Homo sapiens: one gene and its partner. The gene in region 2 interacts genetically with the main gene of each other region. Each region holds a gene or a part of one and is shown on either strand. Other genes may lie near its edges. The genes, in order: PEX11G and DNM1L.

What was found.
Region 1: of DNM1L (region 2) and PEX11G, changing one enhances a phenotype caused by changing the other (phenotypic enhancement), as found in Homo sapiens cells (one study listed by BioGRID).

Annotation. Positions count from the first base shown.
Region 1 is NC_000019.10:7,485,347-7,493,758, forward strand, and holds the start of PEX11G (peroxisomal membrane protein 11C), read right to left. Parts: upstream 3,690-8,412; 5' UTR 3,665-3,689; coding exon 3,605-3,664; intron 681-3,604; coding exon 492-680; intron 1-491. UniProt on the Homo sapiens protein: Promotes membrane protrusion and elongation on the peroxisomal surface.
Region 2 is NC_000012.12:32,716,837-32,725,328, reverse strand, and holds part of DNM1L (dynamin-1-like protein), read right to left. Parts: intron 6,687-8,492; coding exon 6,566-6,686; intron 4,666-6,565; coding exon 4,534-4,665; intron 2,903-4,533; coding exon 2,696-2,902; intron 1-2,695. UniProt on the Homo sapiens protein: Functions in mitochondrial and peroxisomal division.

The DNA of each region.
Region 1 (8,412 bases), on a different chromosome or scaffold from region 2:
TATCAGTAGAGACAGGGTTTTTTTTTTTAGACGGAGTCTCGCTCTGTCGTCCAGGCTGGAGTGCAGTGGCGCGATCTCGGCTCACTGCAAGCTCCACCTCCCGGGTTCAGGCCATTCTCCTGCCTCAGCCTCCTGAGTAGCTGGGACTGCAGGCGCCTGCAACCACACCTGGCTAATTTTTTGCATTTTTAGTAGAGACGGGGTTTCACTGTGTTAGCCAGGACGGTCTCCATCTCCTGACCTCGTGATCCGCTCGCCTCAGCCTCCCAAAGTGCTGGGATTACAGGCATGAGCCACTGCACCCAGCCGAGACAGGGTTTTACCATGTTGGCCTGGCTGGTCTCGAACTCCTGACCTCATGATCCGCCAGCCTTGGCCTCACAAAGTGCTGGGATTACAAGCATGAGCCACTGTGAGGGGCCAAAAAATTTTTTAAAAAATGTCCACTCAGGTCCGCACCCTACTCCCTAGAGCCCCACAAACCCTGTTACCTGTGCCCCCAGGCCATATTGCTTAGTGTAGACAAACATGGCCAGGTCATCAAAGAGTCGCAAGATGGTCCTGCAGTGGCTGAGTTGGGTGGACACCACCAACAGACGTGTCCCCACTTCGGACCTGGCGGGACACTGTTCAACCAGAACTCCACCAACCAGCTGGCAGCAGTACCCCAGCACTCGGATCTGTGGGAAACCAGAAGCAGTCAGTGTGGCCCTCCTGTTCTGCAGAACTGAGCTGCATCCCCCCATACCTGGCCCCGGGCCCCGCTGGATTGAGAGTGTGGAAGATTCTCTTTTTTTTTTGAAAGAGTCTCACTCTGTCATCCAGACTGGAGTGCAGTGGCACGATCTCGGCTCACCGCAGCCTCCATCTCCCATGTTCAAGCAATTCTTGTGCCTCAGCCTCCCCAGTAGCTGGGATTACAGGCGCCCACCACCACACCCTGCTAATTTTTATATTTTTTGTAGAGACAGGGTTTCACCAGGTTGGCTAGGCTGGTCTCAAACTCATAACCTCAGTGATCCACCTGCCTTAGCCTCCCAAAGTGCTGGGATTACAGGCATGAGCCACCGTGCCTGACCCAAGAGTTTGGAAGATTCTAAATCTACAAAGTGACAGTAAAAGCTGAAAGTTTAGGTGGGGCACAGTGGCTCACACCTGTAACCCCAGCACTTTGAGAAACCGAGGTGAGAGGATGCCTTCACACCAGGAGTTTGAGACCAGCCTGGGCAACATAGCAAGACCCTGTGTCTACCAAAAAAATTTTTTTTTTTGAGACGGAGTCTTGCTCCGTCACCTAGGCTGGAGTGCGGTGGCGCGATCTCGGCTCACTGCAAGCTCCACCTCCCGGGTTCATGCGATTCTCCTGCCTCAGCCTCCCGAGTAGCTGGGACTACAGGCACCCGCCACCAAGCCCACCTAATTTTTTGTATTTTTAGTAGAGATGGGGTTTCACCATTTTAGCCAGGATGGTCTTGATCTCCTGACCTCATGATCCACCCGCCTCGGCCTCCCAAAGTGCTGGGATTACAGGCGTAAGCCACCGCGCCTGGCTACCAAAAATTTTTTTAAGTTAACAGGGCATGGTGGTTACTTGGGAGGCTGATGCTGGAGGATCACTTGAGCCCAGGAGTTCCAGACTGTAGTGAGCTGTAATCGTGCTACTACACTCCAGCCTGGGCAACAGGGCGAGACCCTGTCTAAAAAAAGAAAAAGAAAAAGAAAAAAAAAGCTGGAAGTTTAAAAACATACTTGGAGGTGGGACAAATGAAGAAACATGACATCATTGATGTAACTGAAGGGCACAGCCTTTGGGAACAGATGTGACAGGAACAAAGAAAACAAAGCTCCTTACTTCCCACCTCCTAGGTCCTTCTTTTCCCAGGTGGCAGGAAGCCACAGCTAAAGTGTATATTTACATCTACCTGCCTGGACCAAAGCCTTTGGATGTGCTGAATGGTGGGCACAGGTGATCAGGCCTCAACCCAGTGAACAACAGGATAATTTGGTAGAATTACTTTAGAGAGAAAGAACCTACTCAGTAGGTGATGTGGAGCCTTCTGAAATAGGTCATCTTCACTACTCAGATCTTTTTTCTTTTGGAGACAGAGTCTTGCTCTGCTCCCCAGGCTCGAGTGCAAAGGTGTGAGCTCACTGCAACCTCTGCATCCCAGGTTCAAGCAATTCTCCCGCCTCAGCCTTCCAAGTAGCTGGGACTACAGGCACGCACCACCACATCCGGCTAATTTTTGTATTTTAGTAGAGACGAGGTTTCATCACTTTTCCCAGGCTGGTCTCAAACTCCTGAGCTCAGACAATCCACCCAGCTCAGCCTCCCAAAGTGCTAGGATCACAGGCGCGAGCCACCACGCCTGGCCTCCCTTATATCTTTATTTTACCTGCTTTTCAGAAATTGCTTGTTCCTGTTGTTTTATTTATTTTTACTTGTAATTCCTTTCCAGCCCCATTATAATGGCAAAACACTGCAATCTGAATGTTCAACTCGGGGGAGATTTGTTAACCCACCCCCCCAATCATAAGATATTTGAATGGAATCTAAATGCCTAGCCACCAGTACACCGCCTGGTACAACCTGAATGTCTACCTATAAGAGACTGGTGGGGACAAGCTAAGAGTCCAGACTCAGGGGCATGGATGGCATAACCTAAATGTTCAACCATATGGGACTTGATTGGAACTAAAAACTGTCCAGCCATAGGGAGAGTCTTGCAATATCCTAAATCCCCACATGAGATTGTTTGGGACAACCCAGGGACCAACTACAGTGGCCCGGTCAGATCCTAAATGTCCAAACATGGGAATCTGTTTGGTATGTAAACGTCCAGCCAGGCTGGGTTGGCAGAGACGATCTAAATGACCAACTGGGGTTTTGTTGGAACCCATCGCTGCTTAGGCATGGCAGGGCCCAGGCCATGGCGTGTTCTTTGGTCTAGGTTGGCTGAAACAACCTAAATGCCCAACTATAGGGAATCTGGTTGGAAGTGAATGTCCAGCCACAGGGGAGCCCTGCAACATCCCAAATCCCAACACGAGATTGTTCAGGACAACTTCAGTGGCCTGGTCGGATCCAAAACGTCCAAACACGGGAATCTGGCCAGTGTGTCAATGTCCAGACAGGTTGGGTTGGCAGAAACTATCTAAATGTCCAACGCTGGCCAGACGCGGTGGCTCACGCCTGTAATCCCAGCACTTTGGGAGGCCGAGGCAGGTGGATCGCTTGAGGCCAGGAGATCGAGACCATCCTGGCTAACACGATGAAACTCCGTCTCTACTAAAAATACAAAAAAATAGCAGGGAGTGGTGGCGGGCGCCTGTAGTCCCAGCTACTCGGGAGTGCTGAGGCAGGAGAATCGCTTGAACCCGGGAAGCGGAGGCTGCAGTGAGCAGAGATCGCACCACTGCACTCCAGCCAAAATAAATAAATACATAAATGTCCAATGCTAGGGCACCGCATTTGAGCCTAGCTCGGACGGGGCCTCTGCGACGGAGTATCCTGGGCGACCCCGTCCCCTCTCTGGCCCGTTTCCCAGTCTCTGAGCTTGGGCCAAACTCTAGGACCTCCGGCCCCGGTCCGCCCCTGCCTCACCAGGCGGTCCCGGCCCCTGTACGACTCCAGCGCCGACGCCAGGCCGCTCAGCGACGCCATGGCAACTCCGTGACGTCACCGCGACGTCGGCGCGCCGCGCCAGGGGGCGGGGCCAGGCCGGGGTACCGGGAGCGCCCCAAAGGCTTGCGCGCAGGCGCGGCCGCAGGCCTTTGTCCCCCTGACCGGCTTTTTGTCCGCTGTAGGGGAGGGACAGAGTTTGCAGAGGTGGGGCCGACACGTGTGTGCTCTCCAGGCCTGCAGACCCTGGATCATCCTCGGAGTTTGCTGCATTCTGCCCCACGGCGGTTTGGCCAACTACCCACGCACAAAAAAATATATTTCTAAGTTTAACCAACTACCCACACGCTCCAAAAATATTCCAAGCAAAACCACCAACCTGTTCGCAGTGGTTCAAGGAGAGATTTTCCTTTTTAGTTTTTGTGCTTCACCTTTTCTGCACTGTCTGCCTGCCCGTAGTGAGCAGGAATGACTGCTGTAATATCACAACAAGGCATCTTTCGACGTTAAGGAAAGACGTTATCTTTGGACGTTAAGAATTGTTCTAGAATACATAAATAAAAAATAAAAATGCACAATTCAGTGACATTAGTACATGCACATGTTGGACAACCATCACCCCTTGCTAGTTTCGGGGTATTTTTATCACCCCCAAGAGAGACCCCCGTAGGAGACCAGCATATGCCCCTCTGAAATATGCGACCTTGGTGTAGGATTATTTTGAGCTGAGATCAATGAAGCTGATACCGGAAAAGCTCTCTGTTCTTCCCTGATTTGCCTCAAAGCAGGACCTAAAGGTACAAAGGTGCCCTCCTCCCCTCTCTACCAGGAAGGACAAAGGTTGATCACCAGGGACACCTTTAGACTCTTGTCTGGAGACGTCTTTTTTTTTTTTTTCTTTTTTTTTGAGACGGAGTCTTGCTCTGTCCCCAAAGCTAGAGTGCAGTAGCGCCATCTCTGCTCACTGCGTCCTCCGCTTCCCTGGTTCAAGCGATTCTCGTGCCTCAGCTTCCCAAGTAGCTGGGATCACAGCTGTGCACCACTGTGCCCGGCTAATTTTTGTATTTTTGGTAGAGTCGGGGTTTCACCACGTTGGCCAGGCTGTTCTCAAATTCCTGGCCTCAAGTGATCCGCCCGCCTCGGCCTCCCAAAGTGCTGGGATTACAAGCGTGAGCCACCGCACCCGGCCTCAATGTCCTTTTCCTTCGTCTTGTCACTTCTCCAAAAATTTGCTGCTATATGTTGAAGGTGCTATATAAGCAGGAGTTATATAAGCTATATAAGCCACCTCATTTCTCTTGGCATCTCCCATGTACACATAAGGTACACATGTTAATAAATTTGTTTTTCCCTTGTTAATTTTTTTTTTTTAGACGGAGCCTCGCTCTGTCGCCCAGGCTGGAGTGCAGTGGCACGATCTCGGCTCACTGCAAGCTCCGCCTCGCGGGTTCACGCCATTCTTCTGCCTCAGCCTCCCGAGTAGCTGGCACTACTACAGGCGCCCGCCACCACGCCTGGGTAATTTTTTTTTTTTTTTTTTTTTTGTATTTTTAGTAGAGACGGGGTTTCACCGTGTTAGCCAGGATGGTCTTGATCTCCTGACCTCGTGATCCGCCCGTCTCTGCCTCCCAAAGTGCTAGGATTACAGGCGTGAGCCACCGCGCCTGGCCTCTATTTTTTTTTTTTTTTTTTTTTTTTTTTTTTGAGACAGGGCCTCGCTCTGGGAGGAACCAAATTTGTAGATGTGAAGCCGCCACTTGTGTGCTCTCTGGGCCTGAGGACCCAGGATGATGCCCAGAGCTTGCTACATTCTGCCCCATGGTAGCTTGACCAACTACCCACAAAAAAGGGGTAGAGTGCAGCGGCACGATCTTAACTCACTGCAGCCTTGAACTCCTGGGATCAAGCCATCCTGCCACCTCAGCATCCTGAGTAGGTGGGACCACAGGTGCCTGCCACCACAATTGGCTAATTTCTTTTTATTTTTTATTTTTTGTAGAAATGGAGTCTTACCATGTTACCCAGGCTGGCCTTGAGCCCTGGGCTTAAGCAATCTTCCCACGTCGACCTTCCAAAGTGCTGGAATTACAGGCGTGAACCACCGCACCCGCCCTTCTTAATTCTTTCATTGCAAGGATCCATCACAGCTAAGAACTAAGAATAAAGGAAAAAGTATGTTTCCTCCCCTACACCCTGTTCCCATAAAGCAATCACTCAATTCCTCCCTCCTCCCAGCCCCTGGCAACCACTAATCTGCATTCTCTGCTGTCTCTCTGTATTTTTACCACTTCTTGATTTTTTTTTTTTTTTTTTTTTTTTGAGACAGAGTCTCACTCTGTCACCCAGACTGGAGTGCAGTGGCATGATCTCAGCTCACGGCAGCCTCCGCCTCCCAAGTTCAAGCAATTCTCCTGCCTCGGCCTCCCAAGTGGCTGAGAGTACAGGTGCGCACCACCACACCCGGCTAATTTTTGTATTTGTAGTAGAGATGGATTTTACCATGTTGGCCAGGCTGGTCTTGAACTCTTGACCTCAAGGGATCTGCCTGCCTCGACCTCCCAAAGTGCTGGGATTACAGGCATGAGCCACCATGCCCGACCTCCTTGATATTTCATACAAATGGAATCATACAATATGTGACCATTTGTGTCGGCCTCTTCCACCAAGCATAATAGGTTGTTTTGGTTTTTGCTTTTTGTTTTTGAGACAGGGTCTTGCTGTGTCACCAGGCTGGAGTGCGGTGGTGTGATCATAGCTCACTGCAGCCTTGAACTCCTGGGCCTGAGAGATCCTCCTGCCTCAGCCTCCACATTGCCTGGGACTACAGGTGCACGCCACCACATCTGGCCAATTTTTAAAATTTTTCTTTTGTAGAGATGCGGTCTCGCTATGTTCACCAGGCTGGTTTCGACCTCCTGGACTCAAGGGATCCTCCTGCCTTGGCCTCCCAAAGTGCTGGGATTACAGGTGTGAGCCACTGCGTGCAGCTGAGCATAATGGTGTTGAGGTTTGTCTAAGTTGCAGCATGTATCAGAAATTCATTCCACTTGCAGCTATATAACATTGCGCCATATGGATGGACCACATTTTGTTTATCCACGTATCAGCTGATGGTCATTTGGGCTGTTTCTGCCTTTTAGCGATCGTGAATAAGTACAGCTATAAACATTTGTGAATATGTAGTTGGAGTCCCTGGATTCCATTCCTTTGGGTCTATACCTAGAAGTGGGGTTGCTGGGTCATTTTGTAACTCTATGTTGAACTTTTTGAGTAATTGCCCAACTGTTTCCCACAGTAGCAGTACCATTTTCCATCCCCACCAGCATTACACAAAGGTTCCAATTTCGCCACTTCCTTGCAACATCCTTTTTTGATTATGATAGCCATCGTAGTAGGTGTGACGTGCCACCCCATTGTGGTTTTGTTTTGCCTTTTCCTGATGACTAATGATGTCAACGAGTCTGTTTGTTGGTTTGTTTGAATTTTTTTTTTTGAGACAGAGTGTCACTCTATTGCCTAGGCTGGAGTGCAGTGCTGATCTCAGCTCACTGCAACCTCCACCTCCCAGGTTCAAGCGATTCTCATGCCTCAGCCTCCCAAATAGCTGGGATTACAGCACACCCGCCACTGTGCCCGGCTAATTTTAGACTTTTAGTAGAGACGGGGTTTCGCCATGTTGGCCAGGCTGGTCTCCAACTCCTGATCTCAAGAAATCTGCCCACCTCGGCCTCCCAAAGTGCTGGGATTATAGGCGTGAGTCACCGCGTCTGGCCTCGATGTTAACCAGTTTTCTTTCACAGAATATTTCCTCTTGATTTCAACTCTTGTTACTCTTCTCCTGCATTGCTTTCCTCCTGTTGTTTAAAGTTACAGCAGATTCCTGCCTCAGGAACTTTGCATGTTCTGTTTCCTCTGCAGAAATGTTCTTGAGCCAGATACCAACGTGGCTCCCTCCTTCCCTAACTTCCTTTACTCGAATGTCATCCTCTCACGGGACCCACCCGATCACACCCTCCTGGACACTTCCTACCCATGTTACCTGCTGGTGACCTGTCTTGTTCATGGCTATATCCGCACAGCCTGGCAGAAAACAGAGAATCTGTTTTGTAAGTTTCACTGCCCTGTCCAAAGATCTCTTCTTGTGCTCCAAGGGAGCATGGAACACAAGGGGGCACAAGAAAGGCCTTGTCCACTCCTGTGATTTTCTTCCTCTCTGTCTCTCTCTCTTTCTGTTTTTGTTTTTAAACAGAGTCTCACTCGGTTGCCCAGGCTGGAGTGCAGTGGCATGATTTCGGCTCACTGCCATCTCCACCTCCCGGGTTCAAGCAATTCTCCTGCCTCAGCCTCCCAACCAGCTGGGATTACAGGCACCTGCTACCACGCCCCCACTAATTTTTGGAGTTTTTAATAGAAATAGGGTCTCACCATGTTGGCCAGGCTGGTCTCAAACTCCTGGGCTCAAGTGATCCACCCACTTCGGCCTCCCAAACTGCTGGGATTACAGGCATGGGCCACCATGCCCAGCCTCTTTTTTTTTTCTTCTTGTTTGTTTTTGAGACAGGGTCTCGCTCTGTTGCCCAGGCTGGAGTGCAGTGGCATGATCATAGCACCACTGCTGCATTGAACTCCTGGGTTCAAGTGATCCTCCATCCTCAGCCTCCCATAGCACTGGGATTACAGGTGTGTGCCACCACACCTGGCCCCAAGAGACTCTTTAACTTCCACATCCAGCTCCTTTTAAGACTTGGGTCCACTGGCTGAGCTCAGTGACTCACACCTGTAATCCCAAT
Region 2 (8,492 bases):
ATCATTTGACAAGACCTGTTTTCAAGTTATTTGTTGTTTGTTTGCTTGTTTTTGTAGCCTAAAATAAAAATTTCAAATACAATTTTAGTTCTTACAAGATGTCTTAATTTTGTACCAATTCAGGTAGAAGGAGAGGCCTAGCTTGAATTAAGGGTTATACTCAGTTTTTACCACATTATTGAAAAGGGTACCAGCTTTGGAAAGAGATACTATACTAATAAGCAAGTGTAAAAAAAAAGAAGAAGAAGAAGAAAATCTTCAGTGATACGATGCTTTAAAAAAAAAAATTAAAGTTCATTTTCTTTGGGGTAGAGCTAGAGAGAATGCCCCAAGCTTCTGTGTGGTTTCTTCTAATTCTTATTGCTTGAAGTATGAGTATGTCACTTACCCATGCTTCTGTTTACTATGTATTAAAATGTGTAGTACTGTTTACTTAACTACCTCATGGATGTGTTAAGGCATATTCAGTTAAATCTCATAAAATGTTTCTCATTCTCATTAAAAGCTCACATTTTGGGCCTATTTGTAATGCCAGTGTTGACACTCAGCATTTTGTTCACACCATGCTTTGACAACTAAACTGGAAAACAGTTATCAAACTAAACTATCAGTTAGTGATCTTTGTGTGGCTTCTATATATATTATTATATATATTATTATTTTTTATATATATATTAAATATTTAATTTATATTTAATTAATATAATTTATATATATATATATATATATATATATTTTTTTTTTTTTTTTTTGGAGATAGAGTCTCTCTCTGTTGCCCAGGCTGGAGTGCAGTGGTGCGATCTCAGCTCACTGCAACCTCCACCACCTGGGTTCAAGCGATTCTCCTGCCTCAGCCTCCTAAGTAGCTGGGATTACAGGCACGTGCCACCACGCCCAGCTAATTTTTGTATTTTTAGTAGAGATGGGGTTTCACCATATTGGCCAGGATGGTCTTGATCTCTCGACCTCGTAATCTGCCTGCCTCAGCCTCCCAAAGTGCTGGGATTACAGGCGTGAGCCACTGCGCCTGGCCAATGTGGCTCCTATTTTTATAGAAGTAGATGGATGCACTATTTCACAAGGTCCAACAATTTTTTTCTGTATGACTGCATAGTAGTAAATACTACAGGGATAGCACATAGTATTGTAGTCATGAGATTAAAGTAGAGATAAGACTATTTTTGACAAAAGATGCCATTAAATTTCAGACTGTAGTGCCACATTTACAATACCTCAGGCTAATTACTGTTAATTTTGAGGCAACTTTCTTTTGACGATGGCGAGGGTGGACTATTGGATTGTCATTAGAGGAAGGTCTAGATTTCCTGCTCTTAACAAAATTACATTGAATTCATTTTTAGAGGTGATGAAAACTTCCTTTTTGAGAAGTTAGTGTTCAGGTCTTGGAATGTGAACACATTGTTTGTAATGCTATCCATTCCTCTCCTGAGATTTTAACTTACTACTGGAAATCCTTAACCAATTATAATAGCTTTGTTCTATTTTCAAAATCATTTCCTTTGCTTTGATTAGACACTCTGTTTTTTTGTTTGTTTTGGTAGCCGTAGTTCATCTAAATGCAGCTTTTTCTGAACTTTAAAGATAGAATCCCTGTTTTTTTTTTTTTTTTTTTTTGAGACAGAGTCTTGCTCTGTTGCCCAGGCTGGAGTGCAGTGGCACCATCTCGGCTCACCACAACCTCCGCCTCACGGGTTCAAGCAATTCTCCTGCCTCAGCCTCCCAAGTAGCTGGGATTACAGCTGCCCACCACCACGCCCGGCTAGTTTTTGTATTTTTAGTAGAGATGGGGTTTCACCATGTTAGCCAGGCTGGTCTTGAACTGATGTCAGGTGATTCACCCGCCTCAGCCTCCCAAAGTGCTGGGATTACAGGCATGAGCCACTGTGCCTGGCCAGAATCCCATTTTTAACGAACTGAGGTAGCAAAATAATCTTTTTCATTCTTTTAGGAAATAGTTATTGCCAAAGTGAAGGTGTCGATAATACCTGGTCTTGTTATATAATGGGGATGTGGTTTGCAGAAGAATTTTCTTTATAAAATTGAAGTTTCAAGGGATATCAGTGTTTATGCCATTTTTCCAGTTCCAAAATTATTCCATTCCATTCTAGAAATCTGAAGTATGTAACTTGAAATCCTTAATAAAATTTGGATTCAATTAAAAAAAAAAAAGGATGGAATTTCAATATGTTGCCCAGGCTGGACTTGAACTCCTGAGCTCAAGGAATTCTCCTACCTCAGCCTTCTGAGTAGCTGGGACTACAGGTGCACACCAACATGTAATTTTGTTTTTATGTTTTATTTTTACTTATCTGCATTTTCTAATTTTTGTGAGCAATTATACTGTGTGTACTAAAGAAACAAACACTTTAAAAGCTAAATTATTTTTAAATACTTATTAAAATATTTAATACTTATTAAATACTTATAAAAATAAGTAAATACTTATAAAATATTAAAATATTTAAAAATATGTGACAATTTTACTTTGCTTTATATCATTTACAAAGCATATTTTCACACAACCAGACATCATCCTATTATCTCTACAAAGTTATATTTTTGTTTTATAGAAAATAAATCTTAATCAGATAATCTGAGCTGAAGTCATCTTCACAAAAGGAAAAGTGACCTAGCAATCTAGGTAACCAAATCTACAGAAAAATTTCTTACTTACAGCTCCGAAGTTTCAATATATTTTGCAGTTCCTTCAATAGTGTTACAATATTCTGTGGCAAATTTGGTAATAAGTTGGAGTAAAGTAGCACTTTTATCATCCACGGGTTCACCGTAGCTATTTAGAAGAGACTGATACTGAGCAGCTAGAACATTTATTCTTGTTTTCAACTCTGGTAAACAATCTCTGATGTGATGCATCAGTAACCTAAAAAAGGTTAGAAAGGAAGGATTTAAAAGTAAAATTGTGTATTCTAAAGCCCTAAACAAGTCAAATTTTTACAATGGGGAAAACCTATCAAATAATTTGTCCTGGCAAATGTGATACTGTGAAATATATATTTGGTCTTTGTCTTCATTTCCTGGCAGTCAGCTCCTAAAATCCTTGGACTCTCCAAGAGCATTAAGGGTGTTTAGAGTGTCTCTGCATGCTAATGAGATGACTGGTGGCTGGGGGTCCCTAGATAGCTTCAGGATGGGAGCTGGTCACCAGAACAGCCTCAGAAGAGAGGAGAGAGGCCAAACATTGAGCTGATCACCAATGGCCAATGAAGCTTCCATAAAAACTCAAAAGGACACAGTTCATGGAGTCTTCAGAGAGTTGAACACATGAAGGTTCCTGGAGTGTGGTGTGCCCAGAGAGGGCACGGAAGCTCCACATTCCTTCCCACATGCCCAGCCCTGTGCATCTCTTCATCTGGCTATTTATCTATATCCTTTGTAATATGCTTTACAGTAAGTGGGTATATGCTAAGTAGTGTTTCCCTGACCTCTGTGAGCCACTCTAACAAATTCATCAAACATGAAAAGGGGATCATGGGTACCCTGACTTATAGCCTGTCAGTCAGAAACACAGGCTACAACCTGTGCTTACAACTGGCATCTGACTTGGGGGCAGTCTTGTGGGACTGAACCCTCAACCTGTGGGCGCTGACACTATCTCCAGGTAAACAGTGTTAGCATTGAATTAAAGGACATTCAGCTAGAATCCCCTGGAGAATTCCTTGCTTGATGTATGGGGAAAACTCCCCATATATCTGCTCTCAAAAGCATTCTGTGCTATACTGATTAACTGTGTGTGAAAAGGAAAAAAACAATTTTGATTGGTTTTTCCTAAATAATAAAAGCAAGGAAAAAATGCAAATTATTTTCATATTACTGCAATTACCACAGAGAAAATAAGCCACCCAATCAATTCTTCCTATATAATTTTGGTTTCATTGACTTGTCATTTACAATTGGTACCCAGCAAAGTGAAAATCAACCTTATTAAGATCCAAGTCTATCAGTCTTTAGGGAATAAGATAAAAGTAAGAGAAAATGGCTTCCACTTCAGTCATTTATAAATCATCTAGAAAGGGCTTCTAGTCCCCACACATCAGTGGGTATTCAGAATCCAACGTATAGTTATTTCTACAGTGAATAGAAATAAAAGACATTCTATTTCTTTGTTTTTCCATCTCCCTTTCCTGGTAAATAAAACACATTCTAAGGTAAGAATAGATAATGTGAAAATTACAAATTTTAATCAGTTCCTGAAATGCAAAGTGGAAATGAAGTCATCTCTAGTTCTAGCCACAAAACTAAATTAACTGTCAAAATTTTCGTAATTAAAACATTTTAAAATCACTTGTACATTCATTCTAGACTACGTGATGATGTAATGTCAACCACCCCAATAAAAACAGAGACATCTACTCTTCAGGAACCTACTATATAAGAAACCATAAGTGAAGCTGTTAGGAACAGTATGAAAATGTAAGGAACTGAAAATGAACCCTCTCAGACACCAATTGGTAAAAACAAACACATCTCATTTCCAAAAGGTAAAAAAATTACCTGTTTAGAGTCCTAGCAAGATACTTTGTTCCATTTCTATTGGCCAGAGATGGATATTTCTTTTGAAGAAAAGCATACTCATCACGGATTGAATCAGTTACACTCTTCTTGTTGTTAATATCTAGCTGGCTCCTGAGGTTGAAAAAATAACGAAACTATTCAGCTTAACTGTTGTCCTCTTCCTACCTTAGATGATGACAGCACCAGGCATTGTTCTCTAATACCTGACAGGGACTGTTTTATTTAATTCTCACAATAATTTTATGTGGCAGGTATTATTACCCCATTGTATAGCAAGGAACTGAGGCTCACAAAAACTAACTTACCCCAGGTCACACACTAACTGGCATAGCCAAGACTTGAACTAAGTGAATTGTAAGTAACTAGTGCCTAAATAGAGTAGGCCTCATTATTACCATTAACTATAGACAAAAACAATAAGTAACAGGTATAGACAGGTATAAAAATATAAGAGTATCTTAGTCAACTGTATATTTTATCCATGGACAGGGAACTAATTTCTCCCAAAAATAATTAAGTTAACTTGAAGAACAATCATCTACAAACAACGAACAGTGTTAGGCCACCTCCTTACCTGAAAAAGGAGACAGCTGGAATTGGGAGTGGGGATGGGAGAATGACAGTGGGGATGGGAGAATGACAGTAGGGTTGGAATGGAAGGACATTAAAATAGAAGCAGACAACTGGAATGGATCTTATGTATCAGGCAGTAAAAACATTTTCATTTTCTAAAGGCTTGAGACCCAAAGACATTAGGTGTCATTTAAACCTACGTTGTATCTAGTTTATGTAAGAACTAGGACTATAACTCAGATTTCATGATAATTTCAGTGTTTCCTACCATATGAAGGCTTTGGACTAAAAGAGATATTCATCCGAATCCAGCTCTTTCACTACCCACGTGACTTTTGGTTAAATGTATAACCTGAGGTTTCTGATTATAAAATAGACATCAACACCTACCTCAGGGGATGCTGTGAGGATTCCAAGAGATACCATTTGCAAATTGCTCACAGTAGAGTGTCTAAAACGTAATTAGACACTCAATAATAATTTCCTTTTCCCGATTTTTAATACCAACTATTTATAATTAGGATACCTTTAATAAAATTTCTCCAAGTCACATCCTGGCAATTACACAGAATCACTAATGCTAGGGATTAAACCAATCTATTAAAATCTTGTCACCTTTAATTAGACACTCAATACTAGTTTCCTTTTCCCAGTTTTTAATACCAACTATTTATAAATTAGGATACCTTTAATACAATTTCTCCAAGTCACATCCTGGCAATTACACAGAAGCATCACTAATGCCAGGGATTAAAACCAATCTATTAAAATCCTGCCACCTTAAACTCTTTCTCGATTGGGTGCACATTAGATAATTTTTCCCTTACCCAGTACCTCCTCATACATAGCTTAACATGATAGGCAAGAATTCTTAAAGCCTGGCTATTACAACATTTCTTCCATTTTGTGGTATTGCTTACTTTAGAAACATTTTCCAGTAAAAATGTCTATGGGGCAGGCACAGTGGCTCATGCCTGTAATCCCAGCACCTGGGAAACCAAGGTTGGAGGATTGCTTGAGCCCAGGAAGTCGAGACAAGCCTGGGCAACATGGCAAGACCTTGTCACTACAAAAAAATTTAAAATTAGCCAGGTGTGGTGATACACACCTATAGTCTCAGCTACTTGAAAGGCTGAAGTGAAAGGATCACTTGAGCCCAGAGGTTGATGCTACAATGAGCCACAATCACGCCACTGCATTCCAGCCTAGGCAACAGAGAGAGACCCTATTTCAAAAAAAAAAAAAAATTCTCTCTCTTTTCTCCCTTTAGGGCAACGGATTCTTTAGCAATACCAAGATCATAATAAAAGGGAGAAAAAATATAGTACAGCATCACATTTCAAACAGATTTTAGAAATTCAGACTTGCTCTGAAGTGAGAATGCTTATCCCATTCTAAGAATGCTTATCCCAATTCTTATCCCATTCTAACTGCTAACCTGTTAACTACTCCAATTATTCCAAGTTTGACTGGAATAACCCTTCCCATCAATACATCCATGGCATCAGTACCCGCATCCATGAGATCAAGTTTAGTGATTACAGCTAGGGTTCTGCGACCTGGTAAATGCAAAAAGAAAAAAGGGCAAAGAAAAGAAAGAAAATGATCCATTAAATACAACTATTTAGTGTTAATAAAGGAAAACCCTCATCTACAATCCCACTTAGTATTACCTCTGTCATCATTTTGGTAATGCCTTACTTACCAGTGCTTTTTTAAAAATAATGTTAAACATTGTGTATAATTTTTTAAAACATTTTTGCCGGGCACGGTGGCTCACACCTGTAATTCTAGCAGTTTGGAAGGCCAAGGCGGGTGGATCACCTGAGATCAGGAGTTTGAGACCAGCCTGACTAACATGGTAAAACCCCATCTCTACTAAAAATACAAAAATTAGCCAGGCACAGTGGCAGACGCCTGTAATCCCAGCTGCTCGGGAGGCTGAAGCAGGAGAATTGCTTGAACCCGAGAGGCAGAGGTTGCAGTGAGCTGAGATCGTGCCATTGCACTTCGGCCTGGGTGACAGAGCAGGACTCCATCTAAAATATATATATATACTATACATATAAAATATATATACTATATTATATATAAAATATATATAGTATATATATAAAATATGTATAGTATATATATAAAATATGTATAGTATATATAGTATGTATAGTATATATTTATAATATATATACTATATATATTATATATACTATACATACTATATATACTATATATAATATATATACTATATATACTATATTTTATATATATATAAAATATATACTATATTTTATATATATACTATATATAGTATATATAAATATATATAGTATATACTATATATAGTATATTTATAAAATATATATAGTATATACTATATATATTTTATAGTATATATATTTCAGTTACAAATATATATATCTACCTAGGTATATATATTTTTTATATATATATCTACCTAGGTATATGTATTTTTTATATATATATCTACCTAGGTATATGTATTTTTTATATATATATCTACCTAGGTATATGTATTTTTTATATATATATCTACCTAGGTATATGTATTTTTTATATATATATCTACCTAGGTATATGTATTTTTTATATATATATCTACCTAGGTATATATATTTGTAACTGAAAAATGCCATAGGTAAAATTGTACACTATGCAGAGCAGGACTCCGTCTAAAATATATATATATACTATATATATATAATATATATACTATATATTTAAAATATATATAGTATATATTTAAAATATATATAGTATATATTTAAAATATATATTATATATTATATATACTATATATTATATATAGTATATATATTATATATACTATATATAATATATAGTATATATAAAATATATAGTGTATATATAATATATAGTATATATAAAATATATAGTGTATATATAATATATAGTATATATATACTATATATACTATATATAAAATATATATAATATATACTATATATTTTATAGTATATATAAATATATATAGTATATACTATATATATTTTATAGTATATATATTTCAGTTACAAATATATATACATAGGTATATATATAAAATATATATAAATATATAAAATATATATATAAAATATATATATATACCTATGTATATATATTTGTAACTGAAAAATACCATAGGTAAAATTGTACACTATGCAGAGCAGTTGGAACTCTCACACGTTGCTGGTGGGAGTGGTGTAGTCATTTTGGGAAACAGTCTGGCAGTTTCTTATAAAGTTAAATTAGCAGTCCCATTCCTAGGTGTTTAACCATGTTAAGTGAGAACCAGTGTTCATATAAAAAACTATATGCAAATATCTACAGCAGCTTTATTCATA